2 separate regions of the Homo sapiens genome follow, and region 1 is linked to region 2. Evidence: fine-mapped QTL for protein levels in blood plasma. Region 2 holds a variant in brackets. A gene starts in the other region. All regions are shown on their reverse strands.

The links. A credible set is the group of variants that fine-mapping cannot tell apart. PIP is the posterior inclusion probability: the model's chance that the variant is causal. The UK Biobank Pharma Proteomics Project read protein levels with antibody pairs (Olink). The fine-mapping took linkage between variants from a reference panel, not from the people measured, so its PIPs are less certain.
Region 1: it holds the start of HSD11B1, and the variant in region 2 is the best candidate, but not a certain one, in a credible set for the plasma level of the HSD11B1 protein (UK Biobank, PIP 0.50).

Annotation. Positions count from the first base shown.
Region 1 is chr1:209,702,415-209,706,817 of GRCh38, reverse strand. It overlaps HSD11B1 (hydroxysteroid 11-beta dehydrogenase 1), which reads right to left and starts at 1,972. Exons shown (of 6, transcript NM_005525.4): 1 at 1,788-1,972; 2 at 877-1,007; 3 at 1-109. The coding sequence starts at 1,875. All of the region lies in intron 1 of HSD11B1-AS1 (HSD11B1 antisense RNA 1), which reads left to right.
Region 2 is chr8:9,313,629-9,318,031 of GRCh38, reverse strand. No RefSeq gene overlaps it. Among named protein-coding and RNA genes, the nearest start is that of PPP1R3B-DT, 160 kb to the right of the region's middle. The variant C/T (reference allele first, on the strand shown) is at 2,184.

The sequences.
Region 1 (4,403 bases), not on the chromosome of region 2:
TGAGCTTTCCTGCTTGGGCAACAAATTGCTCTGCGAAGGTCATGTCTTCCATGGTGCCAGCAATGTAGTGTGCTGAGGCTGCTCCAAGCTCCAGGCAGTGGGATACCACCTGCAGTGATACAGCAGAAATGGCATCAGTCTTAGCTGCAGATTTTTGGGGGGTAGTCTCTGAAGTAACGGGGGGCTTAAATGAGAGATTGCTCACAGCCCTGTTTAGGTAAGAAATGGTAAGTATGTTTGTGTGTGTGTTGCCTAATATAACCCTCATGATCATCGTCCTCTGTCTGAAATATTTTCTGGAACTTGGTGGGGTTCAAATGGATAAATCATCCCAGTGCTGGGGTTTAAGTTCATGATTTATGCTCATGGCTTCTGTGAATAGGCATTTCTGAGGGCATTATGAGTGTAGATGCTGGTTACTATGTGGGTAGCTCTAGGTTTGTGAATGTTTGTACATCCTTGGGTTTGTGAGTCCATGAGAGGGCATGTGTCTGGGAGTCTGCATGGGTATGAGGATATGTATTCATAAGCAGGTACTGGGATTTCAGTTTTTGAAAACATCCGTATGTATCTGTAGTTCCATGTGTAAATGTGTGTGACTAGGCATGTCTGTGAGCATATATAACTCAAGGACTCTGTTGCAGAATATATTACACACACACACATGAATGAATGCTTAAATGCATACTTTTATATTCCTGTGGGTTTTTTGGTGTTTGAATCTATATATGAGAGTGCAAAATTAAGTGTCTGTGTGTGTGCATGTGCCTCTGTATATAGATCTGCGATATGCTAGCTTCTGTGTATATGTGAGCATATATAAGAACACATCTGAGCATGTGACGGTACACATATCTGCGAGCATAGAACCCTCACCTTCTGTAGAGTTTCTTTTGACCTCGCTGTCACCACCACATGGGCTCCCATCTTCGCCAGATGATAAGCCATCTCTCTTCCGATCCCTTTGCTGGCCCCTGTGACAATCACTTTCTTTCCTTGGAGCATCTCTGGGGAACCCCAAAAGGAAGTGAGGACCATACCCAAGTTGGCAGCAAAATTCCTTCTCCCTCTCTGGATATAGGCATGCTTATCGCAATTTGTAACTTAAAGGTTATGAGCCCAGATCAGTTTGTCACAAACTCCGTAAATCACTGTGGGAACAGGCCAGGTCTTTCATAAACATGCTCTGAAGTGGGAGGTTTGGGCTGACAGCCTCCCTACTGTCATTTCTAAAAACCTCCATGGAAAGAGATCATAGGATGAAGCCAGAAAAGTCATGGTTCAGCTAAAATGCTGGAGTTCCAGACATTTCTGGACTCTTTCAATTTTGCTCAATTGAAAGTACATTTAACAAGGAATCAAAACACATGTGTTCATAGAAATTCCAGGGATTTTCCCTCACTTCTATGTAGTCATCATCTCCAGTTTTTTTTTTTTTTTTTTTTGCCTCCCACTTATCAGTCTCTTCATAGAGCCCAATTAGCTGCTGAGTTGTGAATTTGGGTATTACTCTCATTTTTGTAGAAGATTTGAAACTGCTTTCCATTAAGGGTGCCAAATAAAGCATGGCCTATTTGGCTAGATTTTGGCTACACGATTACCCTTCCTACACAGTCCCCCCTGTCCACAGCCTGTAGCTGGAGGACACAAAAATACCATCTTAACTCAGGGTTCCCTCATTTTCACCAACTTTGAGGATCAAGAACACATCTTGGTCCTCAGGAACACTCAAGCACCCCTGTGTTTTTTAAACCTATTCCTCCAAAATGAGACGCATGGGTACTTACCTGGTCTGAATTCCTCGTTTGCAGAATAGTAGTAGTAGGCCATGAAGAGCCCCAGAATGGGGAGGAGATATTTTTTCATAAAAGCCATCCGACAGGGAGCTGGCCTGAAGACTCCTGTAGGACACACAGAGAGAACCTACAGAGCTTTCTACAACCTCCTAAGCAGGCAGCAGCCTCTGAATTGTGACATCAGGGACGGGGGAGGCTGGAGTAGTCTCAGGCAGTGCTAGCCAATTTCCCTGTCAGAGCAGCGATTGGCTTTGGGTGGGATCCCATTCGTCCCTGGCAGCCTGTGTGGTGGATTTCATAATGGACAATGTTTACTCCATTTCATTGAGCAAGAGGAGACTTCCAGATGGCCAAGCTCATGACTGTACAGGACTGGATTCCTGAGCATCCCTACCCGAGTCCATCTTACTCTTAACACCATTTACGCCAGGGATCAATGATCTTTCAAAAGTAATTTGTCAAAGACAGAGAGAGAGGAGTGCATGTAGGGCTTCTGGGGGGAAATGTGAGTAATAGCAAAGAGAGCCAAACTCAAGCCAAATCTCACTCTCAGTCCCCCTACCCCCCCACCCAGTGGGAAGCAATTAAAAATAACAGCACAAAACAGCAAAATAAGCTTAAGAAAAAAAATGTGCACATTTTGGGAAAAAATAATGAAAGCAAAGAAGCTCTATAAGCCCCACACTCAAGTTCAATGAAAAAGTATTACAACATCAAAGGAGAAATTGCAAGCCAGCCAGAACCCAGATGGCGGGAAATCCAAGACTGGTTCAAGACTCTAAGGCAAGTGCAATGGATCATACACTTATTATTTTAACAGAGAACAAAGAAGAAATAATGAGTGACAAAAAAGGCACTAAACTATTAAACTGGGTCTTGTAAATGCTGTAGAGCAACAAGAAACATGGAGAAGATGCTAGGAAGAGGCGACCTGATGTAGAAGAAAAAAGAACTAGCATTAGGCAAGTGAAACTAGCTGGGGACGCCCACACCAGCTAAAAATAGATCTAGTAACAGTAAAAGGACGAGGGTGGTAAGAAACCCTTAGCAATTTAGAATTTATTATCAGGGAAATATAAAAATAACCACCTCAGTATGTCCGTAGCACGAATTCATTAAGGAATAATCCTCAAAGAAAGAATTTAAGATGTATCATTGTTAAGTTTTTCAACTCAAAACCAACCAATCAACTCATGGAAATTACCCCATCACAATGCAGTCCTGCATTCTGTAAGTTATCAGTAGAGCGGGGAAAAAATTTAAATGTGATAATAAGTATCAGTGCTTTGGAGGAGGGATAGGAGTTGGGAGTAGTGGGGGGACAGAATTTACACAAGGTTAAGGGAAATTAAGTTATGATTCCAAGTGCAGTATCTGGAAACATTCATCAAATTTTCACTTTAGAGTAAGAGAAAATAATTTAAGACCCAGAGGAGATGAAACAATTTGTCAACAAAGGCCCACAGCTGTGAGGGTCACTTGTAGAAAACAATGGAGATTTGAGAACAGTTGAGGGCTAGACAGAGCTCGAGGTCTATGAAGGACAAAAAGAGAAAAAAGATAAAATTCAAGTAAAAATTAGATTACATGCCTTTAGAACTGCAAGCTACATTTGTATAATTTTATAAATATATTTATGATACCAGGATATATTACAGACTACACTCCATTTTCATCCCTAGAGGGAAGGCAGTGCCAGCCAGAACCCAGATAAGGTTTATTTTCTTAATCCTATACTATTAATAGTAAAATTATAGGAAACAATGAAAAGTTATTTGGAAATATGATGATGTTGAAATGATAGAAAGATGGGCAGACTAGGGATGTTTATTGTCTGACATAAAAAATAAATAAAGAATTTTAAAGTCCATTAAGAAAACATAAATTTAAAGAAAGCAAAAATAACAATGAGTAAGATAAACTGCAGAGTAATAGAACACAAAGCAAATGCATTAACAATTGCTGATTGTTGGCTCCATTAAAAAATGAAGTCCAACATTGTGTGGCCTCAAAAGACACATTTAAACCCAAAGACACAAACAGATTAATAATTAGATGACCTAATAGCTACGATGCTAGAAAATAAGGATATGGCAAAAGCATCCAATAAAGTGAGTTTCATGGGATTAGATAAAATAATTGCTATATAAAATGCATTGATGAGAAACAAGGACACTGTGTAATGGTAGTTGATGCATTAAATCTTACCAGTTCTCAAATTTTTGGTCTCAGGACCCTTGTATACTCTTAATAATTTCCAAGGACCTCAAAGAACTTTTGCCTGTGTAGGTTTTACCTATTGATATTGCTATTGCAATTTATGCATTAGAAATTAAGACTGAGGATTTTTTTCTAAAGCTCAAGAATACATAAGCATACATTCCATTAGCATTCAGGGCAGTGGCATTAGCATACATCCTGTAGCCTCTGGAAAAGTCAGGTAATGTCTTAGTATAATTATGAAAATAGTTTTGACCTTTCAACCCTTCAAGAGGGTCTCAGAGACCCATGGGGACCACACTTTGACCATATTATATAATAAACATCTAATCCACTTTGTGTCCATATTTACATGGCTGGTTCTCTCATTAGCTTGTAAACTCCTGG
Region 2 (4,403 bases):
ATTAGACCTGCCAAAACAGGCAATCTGCTGTGTCTGCTTATTTGCTGAATTGCTGCTGACGTAAACTCAGCAAACAGCAACAAAAAACTGTTTTAATGAGACTTTAAAGTTCGGCTGTGAAAATTGAAAGTCACCCAATAGCAAACCACCCAACCACCTGAGAATATTGCACTGCAATGTTCTTGTCGCTCACAGCAATTCTATTTCTGACCAGCCAGTTTACAGTAGCAGGAGGGAGTGAGGCAGGGAGGATAAGAAGCAGTTACCCAGGGACAATTTGGGGAGAATTAAATAGAAAATGTTTGCAAAGGGCCCGGCATAGGACTTTGAGTCAAATAGATGCTCAATAAATACTGGTTGTCCATTCTGTGGGCTTCTTTTAGATCTCATATGAGTAGAGTTCACCGTGGTGCACAGTATTCTTCAGTATAAAATTTGGACTTTGAATGCATTCATCTCTTTGAATAATTAAACAAATGCAGTCACTCACACGCTCAAAGAAGGCCATGATGAGAGTGTGTTACAAATCGAGTTCTAATTAATCTAATTCTATCCACGTGAGGTCAATTAAAAACAAAAATATGAATGACTCTATCTTTTATTGTTTTAATCAATCACATAGGCCCCTACTTGTCCCAGGAAGTCAAGTATCTCCCTCTAGGGACCTCCACTTCTCATTCAAGAAAATACTCTTCCATTCCAGTCTGGCTCAGCACAAAGGGGCTGATGATCACTTCTGGTGTCAAGGCCAGGCATCTGGAAACTGAAAACTGTTAGTAGTTAACTGTATCTCTTGCATGGCTGTGCCACACAGTATTGTGGATGGAGCTTCATGTGATCAGTCCCTGGATGCTTGCCCTCTCTGTGGCAATACTCTGGGTTTCTGCCCAGGCCAAGTGGTGTTCCGCTCCTGAGCTCAGATACGCAGCCGCCAGCAGCAGCCACATGATGTGCAGAAACAAATCCTCCCTCAAGTTCAGGGACTCTCAGGCCAGGGATTGAAAGTCACATGCCTATACAGCAGGCAGGTAACAGAAATGAGTGGACAAAATTTAAGAAAAGTTGGCATATACACTTTATTCTTATTTTATTATTATTATTATTATCATTATTATTTTCAGACAGAATCTCACTCTGTCACCCAGGCTGGAATGCAGTGGCACAATCATAGCTCACTGCAGCCTCCAACTCCTAGGCTCAAGCAATCCTCCCACCTCAGCCTCCCAAGTAGCTGGGACCACAGGCATGTACCACCAGGGTCAACTCATTTTTTAAATATTTTGTAGAGATGGGGCCTTGTCATGTTGTCCAGGCTAGTCTCAAACTCTTGGGCTCAAGCAATCCTCCTGCCTTAACCGCCGAAAGTGCTGGGATTATAGTCATGGGCCACCACACCCAGCCAGATTTATTTTTTATTAAACTTGAATGTTAGCAGGTTATATGTAAATATATGTAATATTGACTAGATTTTCTATGTATATAATGCAAGTAGAGAATAAGGAATGCTTAATAAATACACTTTTTAAATAATTCATTTCTTCTTTAATATAACTCTGGAAACCAGGCACTGCTGTTTCTAGATCAAAATGTCAATGTCTCTTCTGTTTTGTTTTCTGGACATGGATTCCTAGAAAAGTTACACCTTTAGATTTCTGGGACTTCAGTATAGTTATGGTAAATTTTTAGTACTATTTTTCCCTACAGTTCAAGCATATCAATTTATAGTGCTTCCTTTATCCTATCAAGATTAATTGAGGAAAGCAAACTCAACAATGTTATTTCATTTTCATTACGTTTGAAATACAATTTTTTGGAGTCTGGTCTACAAATGGACAATTTTAAGAATATAGTTCCGTCTATCACTTTCATTTCTGGAAACTCATTCCAGTGTAGTTAAGTGGGTCAGATAATTTTCCATGAAATGAGTTTCTCAGATGTAATTTCTTTAGAAATGAGTGCATTGCATCTTATATTTCTTAACTACAGTGTCTAGGTATCTCACGCACAGACACCCTTCAAAACAAATATTCCAGATTTTGTTTCTGATGGCCTAGTCTTTGGTGAGAAGGCATGGAAATTTTTCCTTGGATCAATGAGCAAGTCAATTTATTTCAACAATTCAAAAAAACTCTTTCTGGCCAGGCGCGGTGGTTCATGTCTGTAATCCCAGCACTTTGGGAGGC[C/T]GAGGTGGGCAGATCACTTGAGGTCAGGAGTTTGAGATCAGCCTGGCCAACATGGTGAAATTTTGTCTCTACTCAGAATACAAAAATGAGCCGGGCGTGGTGGCACACACTTGTGATCCCAGCTACTTGGGAGGCTGAGGCAGGAGAATCGCTTGAACCCGGGAGGCAGAGGTTGCAGTGAGCCGAGATAGCACCACTGCACTCCAGCATAGGTGACAGAGCAAGACTCTGTCTCAACAAAACAAAACAAAACAAAATATCTTTCCAATTTTAAACCCCCTCGATGGATCTCCCCAGACTCCATGAAATACAGCTGAATATGGTGTTCTGTTTCAAGAGGGTCATGAAAATCATTGTACTTTCAGCAGTTCAAGGCACAGAATCATATTCCGTACTCAGTGCTAATTGCAATGTCCCTGACATTTTCCAATTCTAACCTTTTAGTGCTAAGCAATTGCTGGTGAATAATGTAATGAATGGGCTGAAGTTCTCTGTCCTTACAAATGTTGCCTTGCTACATTTTCTAATAAGTCTGAAATTAACACTAACAGGTCACCTGTCACAGCCTGTAACCACGCTGTCTGATATTGACTGGTCTACTGTCTGCTCAAACCATCAAGACTCTCCTGGCACCCCTAAATAGTTCATTTCCTGATATTATGTCTGTCATACTGATATATCCAAATGACCTCTTAGCCCATCAATCCTAATCAACTCCATGAACAAATATACTAACTTACCAGCTACAGCAAGAAAACACTAGTAATTATTTACCTTTCTTACGTAAGTCGTGCTATGGATTCTTAGCCATACCTTCAACACACACTGCAACAGAATTTCTGGTTGTTTCTGTTTGGGATACGTAATGTCTGTTGCATTCAATAGACACTCTTGTGTAAACTCACCATCTGTCAGTGGTATTGACGCCCACGCAGAATTTTCTCTTAAGATATAGTGGCATTTAACTACAGCATCACTTTAACAGATTCAGTTTTTTTTAAAAGCCTTTTAAAATACCTGTCCTCTTTTTGGTTTAGTGTTTTTTATCATGCATATTTTTTCATACTGGTCATAGGTATGACCATGTTTTGTTGCATCCCTTATATTCTTTTGACACAGAAACACAACAACCTTCTCGAGGTATCTTTCATTTCAGAGAAGCAGCAGGTGGGAGTTCAGTAGATCTGATCTGTGACATTAAACCAGGCAACTTAACTTCTCTAGGTGTCAAGTTCTGGGTCTCCTCTGCAAAAATGATGGCTGGCTGCTGACTAACCCTCTAACGTCCTATGCATTCTAATATGTTTAAATTTTATGGCCTGAAGTCCTAATGGATCCCAGGTTCCTCCTCTATCCCAGAGGCAAGCTGCCTGGAAGAGGGACTTTTTCCTAAGGAAAATGAGTCTGTACCCCAAGCTATAACAGACACTCACAGCAAAGCAGCAGTATTATTCATCCTAGCACTACTTAACCTTACATGTGATTATATGCAAAGCATTTCATTGCTTTTCACTTTATGCCTACATATACATAAGATAAAAGGGAGAAGAAAGGATAGATGAGGTGAGAGGGGGCCTAACATTACGTACCTACCACAAATCAGGTGTATGCAAGGACTTTTATATACAAGCTCTCATTTAATCCTCCCAATAAATCCATGTGGGAGATTATGTTGTCCTCACGTTACAGATAAGGAAAAGAAGCTCAGAGGCTTTCAATATTCTGGCCAAGATGACACAATTAGCAGCAGATCTAGGATCTGACCAATTTGGCTTGACCGCAAAGCCCATGGTGTATCCACTATACACTGTGTGATTCTTCGTTCCTGGGCAGTCTTCCTTGCCAGTGGGTTTTCTTGGGTTGCCCATCTCCCAGGCTGTCCATGCTAAACAAGAATGCTTTATTCTCTTATGCCCCTTGGGCCCAGAAGCCCTGGCTCAATCTTGGGTTGACCAGGTTGAAGGCCAAAATGAGGAGAGACAAGGCCAGGATGCAGAGCCTGGTGTGAAGATCAACAAGACCCAGGAGCTGAAGGTCCAGCCGGAGCCCTGGGTCCAAGCTGGGTGAGCCTGTAAGAGGCAGGAGCAGGTGGAAGCTGAGAGGCAATGGCCAGGAGAGGCAGGGAACAGGCCCAGGTCACACAACCTGAATGTGCTTAGGGGCTGTTGCAGGCCATAGTCCAACCCAAAAGCACTGACTGCCAGAGAGTCAAGTCTTTTT